Linked DNA regions of Homo sapiens. The protein of the gene in region 2 interacts with the protein of the main gene of each other region in a biochemical or structural test. Each region holds a gene or a part of one and is shown on either strand. Other genes may lie near its edges.

Evidence for each region. The genes of interacting proteins can lie anywhere in the genome.
Region 1: the proteins of PEX19 (region 2) and ABCD1 form a complex in vitro, tested with the Homo sapiens proteins (3 studies listed by BioGRID and IntAct, with this or other methods).

What each region holds. Positions count from the first base shown.
Region 1 is NC_000023.11:153,723,161-153,726,904, reverse strand, and holds the start of ABCD1 (ATP-binding cassette sub-family D member 1), read right to left. Parts: upstream 2,050-3,744; 5' UTR 1,639-2,049; coding exon 739-1,638; intron 1-738. Other genes in the region: BCAP31 (B-cell receptor-associated protein 31), read left to right, coding at 3,241-3,397, 3,617-3,744. UniProt on the Homo sapiens protein: ATP-dependent transporter of the ATP-binding cassette (ABC) family involved in the transport of very long chain fatty acid (VLCFA)-CoA from the cytosol to the peroxisome lumen.
Region 2 is NC_000001.11:160,278,435-160,282,178, reverse strand, and holds part of PEX19 (peroxisomal biogenesis factor 19), read left to right. Parts: coding exon 1-140; intron 141-1,932; coding exon 1,933-2,109; intron 2,110-2,333; coding exon 2,334-2,378; intron 2,379-2,544; coding exon 2,545-2,628; 3' UTR 2,629-3,744. UniProt on the Homo sapiens protein: Necessary for early peroxisomal biogenesis. Acts both as a cytosolic chaperone and as an import receptor for peroxisomal membrane proteins (PMPs).

The sequences.
Region 1 (3,744 bases), on a different chromosome or scaffold from region 2:
GCCCGCCGGCCCCGGCCCACCAGGGAGCCAGGAGACAGACAGGGTTGGAAGGACAGCCACGCCAGGAGCAGGAAGTGTGTCCCGCCGCAGTGGCGGCCTGGGCCCGGCATCTCTGGTCTGGGGGCCCGGGAAGGCAGCTGAGCCAGTTGGTAGCCAGGCAGGCCTGTGGGCTCAGGCGGGGGTGGCCTTGACCCCAAGTCCCACTGCTGTGCTGGGCGCTGCTCATTAACCTCCGCTTGGGCTGAGTCATGCCCATAATGCCGGCCTGCCTGGCCAGCCAGCTCTGCTGGACGCCGGCCTTCAAAGGGCCCAAGGGCCCAGGAGGGGCTAGGCAGCAGGCTGCGTCCCTCGGTCCCCGCTCATGAATGGCAGGCGTCTCCTCCTGGCTGGCTGCAGGAGTGGGGCGGGCAGGAGCTCTCGAGGCTCAAACCGCTAGGATCGCAGCTCTAAGGCCAGGACAACCTCCTTGAGGAGGAGAGGAAGCAGAAGTGGCCTCGAGCGTGCAGGCAACCAGCACAGGACAGTCCCCACCCAGCCTTCCTGCCTCTCCACTGCCGCGCCTGAGTCCACGGCTGCCCAAAGGCCCTGCCCACCCCAGCCCGGCTCTCCCATGGCCTGCCCACACCTTTGGCATCAGCCCCGGCCCGCCCCAGACTGTCCCCACCGCTCACGGCTGCCTGCCCCCGGGCCTCCCTGCCACACGCTTCCCTCCGTGCCCGGCACCCCAACCTGCCCCACCTCATGGCCCCCATAGAAGGCGATCTCCTCCGAGTTGGCCACCACACGCGAGTGCATGTAGCGCAGCTCCCCCTTCCGCCGCGCCTCCTCTGCCACCAGCTCCCCGAACTTGGGCGAGAAGGCCCGCAGCACGTTGGCCGTGAGGAACACCACGAGGCCGGCGATGGCCGAGGGCCAGGCTGTGCCGGCTCCACGGGAGCGGGCCGCCCGAAGCAGGGTGTAGGAAGTCACAGCCACGTCCAGGAGTGGCTTGGTCAGGTTGGAGTAGAGGTGGGCCACAGAGGCCGCAAAGGCCACCACGTCCTCCGTCAGAGACTGGTCAGGGTTGCGAAGCCGCCCGTCCATGTTGCTGACCCGGTAGTAGGTCTGCTGGGAGAAGTAGAGGCGGTAGGCGTGGGCCACCAGACGGCTGCGGAACGACAGGGCCAGTTGGCCCTCCAGGTAACGGATGGCACTGTTGACGAAGGTAGCAGGGAGGGCGATGAGGAGCCACTGCAGCAGCTGCCAGCCAAAAGCCCGCGGGTCCTTGCGGACGATGCAGCGGGCCAGCCTTCCGTCCAGGCGGGCCACATACACCGACAGGAAGGTGCGGCTCACCAAGGCGGCCGAGTGCAGGGCCAGCAGCCCCGTCTCCCGGCACAGGACCCGGGGGAACAGCAGCCGCAGGAGCCACAGGAGCCGCTGCAGGAATACCCGGTTCATGCCAGCTTTGGCCGCCGCGACCCCGGAGGCCTCCTGCGTGGGCTCCCCGGCGGGCGCCTGAAGACCCCTGGCCGGGGCCAGGCACTGGCGCACCAAGGGGTAGACTTTGTGGGCTCCATAGGCCGCGAGGGCCAGGAGCACGGCCGTGCGCTTCAGCGTGTTCCCCCGCCAGGGCCGGGGCCTGGAGAGCACCGGCATGTCACCTGGGCTGGCTGCCGCGTAGGGACTGGGGCTGGTGCCTGGGGCAGCAGTTGAGGCAGGTGGCTGGAAGGATTGTTGCTCTGACCCTGGGCCTGTTGTCTAGGCAACTGGAAACCTTGCGATGGCCCCTGAGACTGTCGCTTTAGGCCCCCGGGGTGGTGCTGGGGCCCCTGGTGCGGTGGGCTCAGGGCCCTCCAGGGTCGCGGCCTCTTCGGGCAGCCCAAGTGGAGGAACTTGGCTCTCCTGTCCTGTCAGTGCCCTGGCCCCTGAGGTCAGGGCCTTGAGAGGTCTCGGGCAGAGGGGGCGTCTCTTCCTCTCCACCTTCTCCTCCTCCTCCTCCCCCGGTGGCGCCCCTCCCCGGGGCACCAGGCGCGTCCGTCCGCTCCGCAGCCTGGCTGAAGCGACAGTGACTCCTCCACCGGCCCAGAATCCCCACCCACTCTTCCCCAGGGGCGAGTCGGGGGAAGGGGAGGAGGCGGAGGAGGGGCGAGGGGCGGAGTCCGGGCGCGGGAGCCCCACCCTGTTCTCGCCCCTCGGCGGGGCCCGCCCACACCCCCACCTCCCGTTCTCGCCCCTCGGCGGGGCCCCTCCCGCACCACAGAGACGTGGGACGGCCGCGCGGACTAGAGAAGCGGCCCTCGCCGGCCCGACAAAGCCCCGCCCCGCCCCGCCCGCGTGCTCGCTCCACCCCGCCCTGCTCGCCCGGAGCCCGAGGCGCCTCTTCCTCTCCCGCTCGGAGCGCCGGCCCTCCGCTCCGGGGCGGGGTGGGAAGCGGAGGTGGGCGGAGCCTCCGGGGCCTCGCGAGGGCTGGTGGGCGGTGCCCGGCGGGCGCTTCCGGTTTCCGGCCGCGGTATGAGGGGCGGGGCCGGGGCTGCTGTGGGAGAGTTCTGTTGCTGCGGCGGGGCCTGCACGTTGACTGTGGGAAACTCGGTGAGCGGGCTCCGCGCGCCGGGCTGGGCTCCGGGACCGCGGAGGCTCCCCGGCCCATCGACGAGGGAGAGAGGCGAGCGGCGCGGGGAGGCCCGGGGGCCGGGGAATCTCGGGGCCCGCAGCCTACCTGCGTGTGAGAGGCAGGGGCGAGGGGAAACCGGGCGGCGCCTCTAGAAGCTGGTCTCGGGGGCGGGGCGGGGGGCGGTGAAGCCCCACCTGGAGGAGCGGCCGGGATGGGCCTCCGGGACGGTGTGCCAGGCCGGGGCCAAGTCGGAGGCCCCTCGCTCTGGGTGGGCGCTGGGGCCCGCGAGGGCTACTGTAAGGACCCCTGGCTTCTGAGGATACTGCGTCTAGAACTTTCTCCGTATGGGGCCTTGAGGTGCTTGGTCGAGACCTGCCTTTGCGCTTGGTCCCGAATCCTGCCCTCTAGGAGTCGCTCTTGCGGGCCTCCAGCCCACCGGAGGCGAAGCGGCCCCGGGCGGAAGGCCGCTGGATCCTCGAGGGAGGTGCCGGTTTCTCTCCGCGGGCGCCGTGGGGACGGTGGGAGGCGGGGGCGTCGGCAGCGCTTGGACTAGGTGCGGCCTTGGGCCTGCCTGGTAGCGGGGATTTGGGCCCGCAGAGCGCCCGCCTCTGCGGCTGAGTTCTGCCTGGCGGGGAAGGGAGCGCCCGATGGGTGCCGAGGCGTCCTCCTCTTGGTGCCCTGGCACTGCTCTTCCCGAAGAACGCCTTTCAGTTAAACGGGCGTCGGAAATCTCGGGCTTCCTGGGGCAGGGATCGTCGGGAGAGGCCGCTCTGGACGTGTTGACACACGTGCTGGAGGGGGCAGGTAATTGACCAGCGAACGGAAGTTTGTGGGGCCTGTGAACGCTGCTGGCCAAGAGGCCCTGCCGAGTGGAGCCCTGCTTCCGCCAGCGCATCAGAGACTTTGAAGCAAAGTGCAGGGGGTCAGGGTGGAGAGTGGCGGCCCCAGCCTCGCAGGGTAACTGAACTGGATGTTCTTGGCTGCCCAGCGCTTACAAGTCCCGTACCTTTTGTGCCCTGCCAGGAAACAAGCTCACATCTTCCTGTGGGAAACCTTCTAGCAACAGGATGAGTCTGCAGTGGACTGCAGTTGCCACCTTCCTCTATGCGGAGGTCTTTGTTGTGTTGCTTCTCTGCATTCCCTTCATTTCT
Region 2 (3,744 bases):
AGCTGACCAAGGCCATGGAGGGGCTAGGCATGGACGAAGGGGATGGGGAAGGGAACATCCTCCCCATCATGCAGAGTATTATGCAGAACCTACTCTCCAAGGATGTGCTGTACCCATCACTGAAGGAGATCACAGAAAAGGTTTGTGAACTTCCATTTCTGCTTTTTCTCTTCATTTTCCATCACATCAACTGATGTGGGCTATTTTGTCTACTCAGAGCCTGCAGAAAGAGTAACTCGAGTGTGCTTTTTTTCCTTCTTTATTTATTTGAGGCAGGGAGAGTTGGGGGTTGGGGAGAGTTGTGTCTCTGAGAGAATAAAGCTGTCACACGGTATGTTGGGGTATAAGAGGTATAACGTTTGGGGTCTAAGAGGAAATCCTTCAGTTCTAGTTTTCTATAAACTGGTTCAAGACTCTGGGATTGTTGTCTGATCAATCTTGCATTTCTGACTTCATTTCTCCAGCAAGAATTTGGCTGGGCATGGTGGCTCATGCCTGTAATCCCAGCACCTTGGGAGGCCGAGGCGGGTGGATCACCTGAGGTCAGGAGTTCGAGACCAGCCTGGCCAACATGGTGAAACCCCGTCTGTAGTAAAAATACAAAAATTATCCTGGCGTAGTGGCTCACGCCTGTGATCGCAACTACTCAGGAGGCAGCAGGAGAATCACTTGAACCTGGGAGGCAGAGGTTGCAGTGAGCTGAGATTGTGCCACTGTACTCCGGCCTGGGTGACAGAGCAAGACTCCATCTGAAAAAGAAAAAGAATTAACTGAGGATTTACTTACTGGCTTTGTGATGTGAACAGTGTAAGCGTAGTTTAAATGATGGTCCCTGCCATAAAAGAGCTTATATGTGTGGTTGTATCATTTTGTTTTGAGACAGGGTCTAGCTCCAGTTGGAGCACAGTGGCACGATCTTGGCTCACCACAGCCTCCCCATCCCAGGCTCAAGTGTTTCTCCCATCTCAGCCTCCTGAGTGGCTGGGACTACAGGTGTGTGCCACCATGCTTGGCCAATGTTTTCAAAATTTTTTGTAGAGTTGAGCTCTCACTATATTGCTCAGGCTGGTCTCAAACTCCTGAGCTCAAGTGATCCTCCCACCTCAGCCTCCCAAAATGCTGGGATTACAAGTGTGAGCCACCACACCTGGCTAAAGAGTGTATAGTTTTACTGGAGAGATAAAATACAGGAATAGAAGCTTTTCAGTGACATGGGGAAATGTGGGTAAGTGTGTAATGAATAGTACAGACCACGAGTCAGCAGGCCAAGACCTGGGTGGGACAAATCCAACTCTCTAGCAAATAATGGTTTTTACATTTTTAAGGTCATTTGAAAAAAACTACAAAGAAAATGTGCAATAGCCGAGCGTAGTGGCTCACTCCTATAGTCCCAGCGCTTTGGGAGGCCACGGTGGACAGATTGCTTGAGCCCAGGAGTTTAAGACCAGCTTGAGCAACATGATGAAACCCTGTCTCTACAAAATACAAAAAAATTAGCCAGTCACAGTGGTGCACACTTGTAGACCCAGCTACTTGGGGAGGCTCAGGTGGGAGGATTGCTTGAGCCTGGGGAGATCGAGGCTGCAGTGAGTGGTGATCACACCATCACACTCCAGCCTGGGTGACAGAGTAAAACTCTGTCTCGAAAAAAAAGAAAAAAAAAACACAATAGAGACCATATGTGGCCCTTGAAGCCTAAAATATTCACTGTCTGGCCCTTTACAGAAGCTTACCAATCTCTGGTGACCATAAATGCTAACATGGCCAGGTGATCTGGTTGGAGTCAGTGCCGCTTTTCATGATGAACTTACTTATTTAGCTTTTCGTTTTTCTACGTCCCTTTCCCTTTCACATTTTAATCACATTGTTCTGATTACCCATCCATATCCATTGTTCACTTAATTCTTTTCCACCCATTCTCTCTTTTCTTAGTATCCAGAATGGTTGCAGAGTCATCGGGAATCTCTACCTCCAGAGCAGTTTGAAAAATATCAGGAGCAGCACAGCGTCATGTGCAAAATATGTGAGCAGTTTGAGGCAGAGACCCCCACAGACAGTGAAACCACTCAAAAGGCTCGTTTTGAGATGGTGCTGGATCTTATGCAGCAGGTAAGGCCTCTTGCCTTCTGCCCACTGGTGCTGTCCACTTAGGTGTTCAGTGAAGGAAGTATCTGGGAAGGATGCAATACTGCTAGACCTAGGTGGAGGAGGGATCCTCTCTTGTGATCTCTCTCAGAAGAAATAGAGAGATCATTCATTAGATTCCTCTTCTGGATCCTCTGTTGTTTTCTGGGCTTTTCTCTATTTCATGTTCCATTTTCCTTATTTTCTAGCTACAAGATTTAGGCCATCCTCCAAAAGAGCTGGCTGGAGAGATGGTGAGTATGTCTTATTTTTCCAGATTTTAATTTGAGTCCCCAATTTCCAGAATTCTTTAACCTCTCAGGATTCCACCTAAGGTGAAAATTGTGGCTACTGGGGATGGATCTTCACGTCTGTCCTAAAAAATGAGCAACTATCTGAGTCCCTTCATCTCTTCCCCAGCCTCCTGGCCTCAACTTTGACCTGGATGCCCTCAATCTTTCGGGCCCACCAGGTGCCAGTGGTGAACAGTGTCTGATCATGTGAAACACAACACGTTTTCCTCTCTGAGTCCCAGCTATGGGGAACATCTGGAGTCAGCAGAACCATTGGGACCTGAGGCAGGAGTGTCACCTGCGGGAGAAGTCTGCCCGCTGCCCTCTGTCATCCCATTCAAGATTGTGCCATACCAGCTGAGGTTTTTCCTCTGTCTCTCTAGGAATAGGGTCTGTTTCACAGGCCATTTCTGTGAACCCTACTCCATTGTGGTTTCTGCCACTATCAAAGTTCCAGCTACCTGCAAGGTGAAGGAAGGCATCCCTTTTGGGGCATGCACTTTCTTTCCTTTCTCAAAATAATGTTATATGTGGCCACACTGATGTTCACCTTTACGTCCAGGGTCTTTGTGCCTTGTCTCTACTCCCTCTCTTGGATCTGGGGAGGAGGGGCAGAGACCTGGGACTCTGTATTTCTATAGTTCTCCTGGCAGAGCCTTTGAGAATGGGGAGAAACAGCCTGGGCTGGGGCTACAGGTCTGTCACTATGCTCTCTTGCCTTCAGACAGACCATTCTGAATTCTCTAAAGGGAAAGGGCTTTTGCATCTAATCACAATAGAGTTGAAAGAGAGGCCTTAGGATTCTCCTCTCTCTAGGTGCTGAGCCCTCACCTCCCTGTTCCAGGCTGAGAACTCAAATGGTTACCCTGCTTCTTCCTACAATGCTGTGTGATATGGGTGAACCCAGCCCCTGACCTTCCTCTATCCCCTGCCCATCCTCCCTTTTACCTCCTCTCTTTTTTAAACACCTGTTTATCCCAACCTTTTTGAGCTCAAGCTGTGATAAAGAAGGGCCCATCCTATTTCCCCTCATCTAGTCCATTTACGATTCTCACTGACTCCCCGTCTTCCTGGCAGACACAAATAAACCCAGTGTCAGGTCTAGGAAATTAATGGCTATTCTTCCCCAGATACATTCTGGCTTATTTGAGATACATGATTCTCTTAGAATCCTGTCCCTTGGTTCAGGAAAGTAGCTTGGAAAAGGAGTAGGGGTATAGCTTGGGTCCCTTTTCCTGCAAGGCCCCATGGGGCAGAATATAATAAATATTCTGAGTGAGGAGTGTGGTCTTTTTCTGATCTTCCTCAGCTTCCGTAAGTTGCAGAG